Linked DNA regions of Homo sapiens: region 2 is linked to region 1. The links come from fine-mapping of genetic effects on gene expression. A gene starts in region 1. The other region holds a variant in brackets. All regions are shown on one strand. Distances are between the middles of the regions.

Evidence for each region. PIP is the estimated chance that this variant, and not a neighbour inherited with it, causes the effect. A credible set is the group of variants that fine-mapping cannot tell apart.
Region 2: its variant is the best candidate, but not a certain one, in a credible set for the expression of MARCHF6 in whole blood (TOPMed, PIP 0.66).

The regions. Positions count from the first base shown.
Region 1 is chr5:10,351,606-10,355,997 of GRCh38, reverse strand. MARCHF6 (membrane associated ring-CH-type finger 6) reads right to left here and starts at 2,303. Exons shown (of 26, transcript NM_005885.4): 1 at 2,081-2,303. The coding sequence starts at 2,099. MARCHF6-DT (MARCHF6 divergent transcript) reads left to right here and starts at 1,941. Exons shown (of 3, transcript NR_183261.1): 1 at 1,941-2,026; 2 at 4,225-4,392. RefSeq lists enhancers at 1,067-1,638, 2,485-2,744 and silencers at 1,695-2,164, 2,205-2,344.
Region 2 is chr5:10,425,157-10,429,548 of GRCh38, reverse strand. MARCHF6 (membrane associated ring-CH-type finger 6) reads right to left here. Exons shown (of 26, transcript NM_005885.4): 24 at 3,027-3,159. Among named protein-coding and RNA genes, the nearest start is that of ROPN1L-AS1, 14 kb to the left of the region's middle. The variant T/C (reference allele first, on the strand shown) is at 1,919.

The DNA.
Region 1 (4,392 bases):
AAATTCACTTGCATTTCATGACTAATAATTTCATAAAACAAAATAAAGCAAAATAAAGTTTCCACCAAATTATATAAATGATTCATCCTATAGAGGGAGTGACAAAAATAAATTTCAACATTGGACTTGTAGTATACACTCATAAATAAATAATCTAATTTAAGTGCGACTCTGACAGACATGAGTCTGAATCTTGCCTCTGCCATTTACTACCTGTATTATCCTGGACAAGTTACTTAATCATACTAACCATCAGTTTCCTCATCTGTAAAATGAAAATGCCGACTACCTAACGATGTGAGAGAATTAAATGAAATGTATATAAAGTGTTTAGTAAAGCACATACTACACGTTGAGTCTTCAGCACATGTTATTTTAACAGGCAACAGTGTTCAATAAATAAATGTTATGTATACCTTATCCTGATTATAATTTTACAAGAGAAAAAATATATTTAAGCACTAGAAGTACAGTGAAAATATTTCATGATTCCATACGTGCTTCGAGCGCAATTCCTGAATTACCACAGATTACTGTCACACCATAAAAGTATGCAAGTAGCAATGCCCAGGCCAAAAGAATGAGAATTGAATGTAATACGTCCGTACCTATCCTGTGATAAATACATGCCTTACTAGATTTACTCATTAAAACCTGAATCTAAAAGGATGTGAAACCTATGTAGATGGAAATTTACACGCAAGGACCACCTGTCAAAAAGAAATAGTTCGCAACCTTCAGCAGTTTCGCTTTACTATTTTTTCCAAAGGCGTCTCCAGTGGCGATTAGCTACACTCAGTGTATATAATAAACACACTGTGGCATAATGAAAGGGAAATTACTTGCAATCAGAATGCCTAGGTTCAAATCTGCCTCTTACTACCTGTGTAAAGCTTCGACAAGCTATTAAAATAACGAAGCCTACATTTCCACATCTATAAAAGATAATACCTACCTATTCCACAGGCTTTTTACGAAGATGGAACGCGAATGTACATCAAGTGCCACATGTTATAGTTGAGGTATTTATTAAAGGCAAGACTTCTTTAAAAAAAAATAAGTCGTTATCAACTCATTACATAGATAATATCAAACTTTTTTCACTCATTATTGCACTCCATGACGGCGTTTGATAATTCATTTTCGTTTAAAATCGCCAAAATCGCAACCCATAAGGTTGAAAGACGCTCATACCCCCATAAATATACCTAAAGTAGAAAAGCATTTGCACGATAACCGGAACATCAAAAAAAGCAAAATTTAGTAATTTCCTCTATAAACTCACCACTCATTTAAAAACACAGCTGGTTAAAAATAATCTACTACCTTCAGTGGGTAAGAAAATGCGTTTGAAGAGACATAAGGTGTGGACGTTTATATCTTAAGTATTCATTTTACAAGGGTCAGTTTGTTCAATGTAACCGTATCCAAAACACAAGCAATCGCAAAACAAAACAAACAGAACCCTGCTTATAGGTGTCAAGGATTTAAAACCAAATGGATCGCAACAAAAGAGCCTCCCCGTTTAGTAAACAGATTCTCGAGCGGCAGGCAAGCCGAGGACCAGGCTTTTCAACAGGGGTCAGCTCACTCCACTCGGCCGTCATCTGGCGGGGTATTTTTCGCGAAGTTTCAAAGTCAACAAAGAAGTTCTGTCGCGAGGGGGTAGGGCCTGGCGAGCAATAGGCAGAAGGACGTAAAGAAAGACAAAACCCAGTGGGGGAAGGGTGCGGAAAACGCCCCCGGACGGCAGCGACAGAGGCCCCCTTTTCTGGGCCAGCGCGCGACGGCGGGGACAAGGGAGGCCACGCCGGCCTGCAGTAGCCCCGAGGCCCCGACCCCGGCCCCGGCCCCTGCCCGGCAGGGTCCCCGCCCCCCTCGGCGGCGCGGGCGGGAAACGGCGGGGGGCGCGCAGAGGGTCACCTTCCGCTCCCCGGCCCAGAGGCCCAGCGGGTGGACAAACGGCCCAGGCGTCCGCCCCGCCGCGATCCAGCAGCCCACCTCGAGCGCCGCGGACCTGGCCGGGGTACGAACCCGGGCGCCGACGCAAGGGCTCGGGCGCCGCGCGTCGCCGACTTACCTTCCTCCGCGGTGTCCATCTTGTCTGGGGGGGCGGCGGTGACGCAGCCACGAGGCTCCCGCGGCCGGGCGGGGAAAGAGGGAGGGGAGAGGAGGAGGGAGCCGGGCCCGGGCAGGTGCGTACGCTCAGGTGCGAGAGAGGAAGCGAGAGGAAGGAGAGGGGAGAGGGAGAGGGAGAGAGGCTGACAGAAAGCGAGCGACACGGGAGGGGGAGGGGCGGGAACACCTAGGGGCGAGGCCTGGGCGGGGCGCCGAGGCGGAAGGGGCGGGAGCTCCCCAACGACAGGCGCTGTCACTTCCGGCGGCCGCGGCGTGCACTGTCGGTCGGCGGCTAAGGAGGGGAGGCACCTGCATCTGGGGCGCGGCGAATCCTCGCGTGCGCCAGGCCGCCTGGGGTAGTCGCCGAGACTGCGCCGGCCAGCGGGGCCGAAACCTAATCAGGAGCTGAGCTTTGATGGCGGCTTCTGGAGGGACAAAGAAGGCGCAGAGCGGTGGGAGGAGGCTGCGAGAACCTAGCTCCCGCCCCAGCCGACGTGCGAGACAAAGGCCCCGGCGCGGGGCTCTTCGGAAGGCCGGGAGGTTCCTGTGACAATGCGAGTCTGCGCCCCACGCTCCCGCACCGTGATGCCGAGGCCAAATGGCTAGAGTGGGCCCAGGCATCAGCATTTCTGTTTGGCAGCCGGGCAGTTGTGGTGCACGTTTTGAGGAACTACTAAAGCCTGCCTGTGATGAAAAAGGCAAAAGCTGACTTCACCAAAATTACTCCCAGGGAGACTTCTGCATTTGGCTGGAAGGACATTTGAGTAAACCGCTGAGGCTGGTGGTTGAAACATAATCCTCTAAGGGAGATCGGTTCCGATACCCTGAGTTAGGGACGCTTGCCTGGGCAGAGCTAAGGGGAGAATGATCAAAAGCCAAGCTCTGTCCCCGTCAGCACGTCACCCTCCCTCACTGTAATCCCTGACTGTTTTCTCTAAATGAAGAATTATTTAGAGAATATAAATTAGAAGGGCCGCCACGTCAGAATTGCCTGAGTGGGAGCAGTCTTTCCAGCCTCGAAAAATGTTTAAACAATATGCAGATGACCTAGCACAAATAAAGAATGCTAGCAACCGCTGTTATGTGTGAGCGGTGGAATTGGGAGGGCTCTTCCCCCAATCTTCATCAAACAGAGTAAGGTTTAGAATAAAAATAATGAAATACAGTCTTTCAAAAAGAGCAGCGCTTGACTAATGTTACTGATGTCACTCATGTTACTCAAGGGAGGAAAGAACTCAAACTCTACATAATAATACCCACTGATTTCAAGGGCTGGCACGGAGAATTAAGCAGACCGCCATTCTTTATATTTGTTTTTTTGTTGTTGTTTGCTTATGATTTTTTTCTTTCTTTTTTTTTTTTTTTTTTTGAGAAGGGGTCTCGCACTGTCACCCAGGCAGGAATGCAGTGGCGCGATAATGGCTCACTGCAATCTCACTATATTGACCAGTATGATTTTCAACTCCTGTCTTTAAGCGATCCTCACGCTTCGGCCTCCCAAAGTGCTGGGGTTACAGACATGTGCCACTATGCCCTGCCTAAATATGTTTATATATACTACCGCCAAAGAAACAATTTGAAGACGATCTTTCCCCAGCCCCTCTCCTTCTGATCCAACTCCAAGAGCTCACCCTCCCTGTAAGACCTGTAGCAGAGCACGTATTGGCCTGCTGATACTAGGGGCAAAGACCGGGCCGATCAGATGTTACATGGCATAAGGGCGAAGGATTCTGAAAGAAAGACTGAGACTTGCTGGAGGAAGTACTAGTAGTGCCAAGGGCAGGTATGTGACCCTCGGAGCTGCAGAGCCAGGTTAGGATGAAGGGAATGTGTGTGTATGGGGGGCGTGGAGGAAGCCTTCCTTTTGTATTTAGGTGCCTTCCCTTGTGATGTTCAAAGGAAAGTTAACCTGTCAACCAGTTTTCCCTTCTGCATAGTAATTCCTTCTGGAATTGCCCTAACCTTTTCGCATTCAGACTTTAGGCGTTAAATATAAGAGTAATAAACCAACATTTGTTGAGTCCCCACTGTGAGTCAGGCACAAGTTCTCACAACAGCCCTTTGAATACATGAATCAGTCACACCTCTCTTGGTTGCCATTGACAGGAACTCAACTGTTAGGCAGAAGGGAGGAATGTACTGTTGATATGGACAGACTCCAAGAAGGGGAGGGACTGCTGGGACTACTAGAACGAGAATGCCTCTGCCCCTATGGCTCAGCTCTGCAACTCTCTCTGCACATTGGCTTCATGCTGTTAGACCAGCTTCCTCCAT
Region 2 (4,392 bases), 74 kb before region 1:
GTTGCACCTGTAGTCCCAGCTACTCAGGAGGCTGGGGTGGGAGAATCGCTTGAACCTGAGAGGTGGAGGTTGCAGGGAGCCGAGATCAATCAAGCCACTGCACTCCAACCTGGACAACAGAGTGAGACCCTGCCTCAAAAAAAAAAAAAAAAAGGAACTGGACGAGATGACTTCTCATGTTCCACAAGCAGTGGTGTCATTGATACATTTCTACTGCACCACAGTTTAAAGAAGCAAAACCAAAACTGTGCTTATATAATAAAAAAATCCTCAAACTTTTAGAACACACATGTATTTATTTTTCTATATTTAACTCATGAGTTTTAATACTTCTTTGGCAGAGGGGACTGGGGGGCTTTAAAATCAGAGCAAGTACTTTCGAGGAATTCAGAAAATTAATACCGTCAGGTGGATTATTCCAAACACCACAATAGTGTGCTGTGCATAAGCTCTGGAGCTGAGTTTGAAATCTGAATGCTGCTCTTACTCCTTAAAAACCAGACTTTGGGGTAAGATTCTCAATCTCTATGAACCTCAATTTCCCATTTCTAAAACAGAGTTGACAAAACATATTAAAAAGCTACCCTAAGAATAACATGTAAGAATTACATAAAGCATCTAAACAGGGCAAAACAGGTACCAACATTTTTCATTTGCCACTCTTTTTCCCTTCCAAAGTCTTTCCAGAAATGCTCACAATAAAATTTTTAAAAATGAAAACATGAATGACTGGGTTGGAAATCCAAATTCTTAAGTCTATATACTATTAATGGGCAGAACATAATATATGCTAATTAGAATAAAAAAGAAAATAGGGCATTCCTACTCTAGACAAAACCAGTAAAGAGATTGTTCTAAAGAGTCAAAATAATTTAATTTTAAAGACGTATTCAACTAATAAGCAATGCGCTGGGTGTGGTAGCTCATGCCTGTAATCCCAGCACTCTGGGCGGCCGAGGGGGGTGGATTATCTGAGGTCAGAAGTTCAAGACCAGCCTGGCCAACATGGTGAAACCCTGTCTCTAACAAAAAGACAAAAATTAGCTGGGCATGGTGGCGCATGCCAGTAGTCCCAGCTACTCAAGAGGCTGAGGCAGGAAAATCGCTTGAACCCAGGAGGTGGAGGTTGCAGCGAGCCGAGACTGCACCACTGTACTCCAGCCTGGGCAAAAGAGCGAGACTCCGTCTCTCAAAAAAAAAAAAAAAAAAAAAAAAAACTAAAAAGCAATGGGCTTTGAAATATATTTTGCAGGAAATATATATTTGCATTTTAATATGGTATTTATGATACTTGGCATAGTCACAATTCAAACCAAATAAAAGCCTTGAAGTTTCTACTTAGAAGGAACCAGGAAATGATGCAGTTTGCACACTGTGGGCCCTCAGCTTAACTGTTCCCTGTTTCCCATGCCATCCTGCAGACTGAGGGATACATTGCTCAGCCTCTCTCTATACAAACCTGTGTTGAGCAATTTTTTTTTTTTGAGACAGGGTCTTGGCCTGTTGCCTGGGCTAGATTGGAGTGTCACAACCTGAGGTTAGCCCTGAACTCCTGGGTTCAAGCAATCCTCCTGCATCAGCCTGCAGGGCAGCTGAGATTACAGGTGTGCGCCACCACTCCCAGATAATTTATTTTTATTTTTTTTAGAGGTTGGGTCTCGCCATGTTGCTCAGACTGGTCTTCAATTCCTGGCTTCAAGCAACCTCCCACCTCAGCCTCCCAAGTAGCTACTGCACATGGCTAATATCTTTACTGTCTAAGAAGCAATGAGACTATTAGAAGTCAAACCAGTGGCAAAAGGTAAAGAAGGGCACACACACAAAGGGCTTCCAAAGGGCTGGAAAAGTTCTATTTCTTGACCTAGTAAGGTAACATACAAGTATACATGTTACACTGCAAGTTTGGTTGTGTGTTTTT[T/C]TTAAGCTCCTCTCTCACGGTTAAAGGGAGGACGGGGTCATTTCTGGCAGATGGATAAGACAAATGAAAATGTGGAGACAGTTATGGAGAGGACATTGTGTGTTTGATAAGAGGCCATTCCATGGTTGTTTAATCAAAACTCAGAGTATATGACATGGAGTGAGGTCAAACTGAAGCCCACATCAAAGCAAAAGGAGGAGCCTTGTAAACTATGCCAAAAGGTTGGACTGCATTAAAGGCCACAGAGGAACCAATGAAAAAAATGTTCACCAAAGAGGTACAATGAGATTCATTCTTTTGAAAGGTCATTGTGCCCAGTGTGGAGAAGGAATTAGTGATGGCAGGTTCAAGGCTGGGAAACCAGATAGGAAGGTGCCAAAGTTAGGGTAGGAGACGAATGACTCAACAAAAGTCAGGAGCAAAGGCTCCAGAGACGAGAGACCAGATTCTTCAGGGAAGAATGGGACACTTGGAGACCAGAGGGACATGGAGGACAGAATAAGGTGACATGGATAGCCTTCAAGGTTTCTGACTTATGCAATTTGTTGGATGATAATGTTTGCTGCTGAGAGACGGAATTCTGGAGAAGAAAAAGATTTGGGAAGGAAAAGTCTCTGCTTATAATTTTGAAAATATGTTGGGTTTAAGGAGCTATGAGGAGTCTTCACTACACAATCAACAAGACAGTGTATTTCAGTATAAACGTGTTGCCCATTAGCATCTCCTCTTTGGATCTTTTATGCCAAAGAATATTTCTTTAAAACTTAAATACAACAACACTGTTACTTAATTTTATATGATCACAGCACTTCTAGTCAGAAGAAGACAACCTGAAGGAAATCTGATCCTGCCTATTTTGTACAGCATGTAAATTTCAAGTTTTATCTTCTGGTAGAGAAAAGAACTGTATCAAAGAGCTTTATGATCCTCTAATCTTACCCAGAATAGTCAAATCTAAGAAAAGTGGTATTTTGAAATCATTGTCTTAGCTGGATTCACATTTACAAATAAAGCATATGGAGTGAGACATCCTTTTTACTAGGGGTAAAGAGAATGTCCAATGTTAATAAAAGTGCTCCTTCAAGGCTCCACAACCAGCATTACGTACCTAGTAAAGGAACAACACCAGAAGCTATGACATAAGGTACACACAGGGAAAGCAACAGCACAGAGATCACGGGAGCTGCCAGTTTACGAACAATATAGTGAAGGTCAATGTTCCGGATGCCATTTGCGTAAACCTGAAACATTACAAAAAGCAATTAGAACAAAGATACAAGACAAATTCCTCCAAGTTAATACAGCAATCTCCACACAACTGAATCTGCCAACCCAAAAATAGTCAAACTGGTTACTTCTTCTAAAGTCAAGGCAAATTCTGGTATATCAACATAAGCATAGTGCCCACGAGTTTCTGAAGAAATGTATTTACCCACTAACGCTCTGCAGTTAGCTCTGCTAAGTGATGAAATAAGACACTAATCTAGAATAATTTATACTCTACTTGCACTATACAATACCAGATGACATTCAGTGGTATTCATTCAAGACCACATTACTTGAAGTAACTTCATACATCTTATGAAAGAGATACGTAATATGTAATATTGTGTTATTATACAATATTGCATTCATTTTATCTGAGTATGATGAGAAAACACTGAAGCAGGAAGCGTTTCTGAAAAGCTTGCATAAATCAAATTTTAACAAATCAAAAGGTATTTAAAAATTTAGTATGAAAGAATTCTATAGTGAATATAAAAAAAGCAAGTCCAAGAATTACTAGAATATTTCCATCATCTTATCCAGAAAATTCTACAAGAGTAATGCAGAGGAAAGAATGGATGGAAATGGGAAAACCCTGGGAACAGAAAATTTAGATGGAGTGCAGACAGAAACAAGGCTTAGAAGGCTGTTATTTTCTTCTCCTCTTGCCTCACCAGCAGCACTTAAACCTCTCTTAGCTGTGACTGAATGTAGCATAACTCAACCCCATCACCTCGGAATTTGAATGGCAAACATGCTTAACCTTTTAAAGGCATGCTGCCATTCCCAAAGACACCTAGTTAACCCAAATGCATTTTAATCAATGAAGCAAGGCATCCCAGTGTTTCTCAACCATTTCCAACCATTTTTCTTAAATTTACAGAGACACACACGCACATACGCAAGAGAAAACAATGAATAAGATAACAAATTATTTAGAAGATCAATGATGTTCCACAGCCTCCAGTATGAATAAATCCCATCTCCATGCTCCTTTTTCAAGGGCCAGAGGCTAACCTGGCCATTCTAGAGTGTACTGGCCTGCACTCTGATCCTGAAGGGATATGAAGCCAGAAGCCCCCAATCCATCACACTCCTGGTGGACTTCAGAATTAGCCCATACTTTAGAGACACACACAAACACACTGCAATTTGCTGGCTCCCTAACCCCCCTACTCCTAAGAATCAAAATCTTGAAATACAGGCAC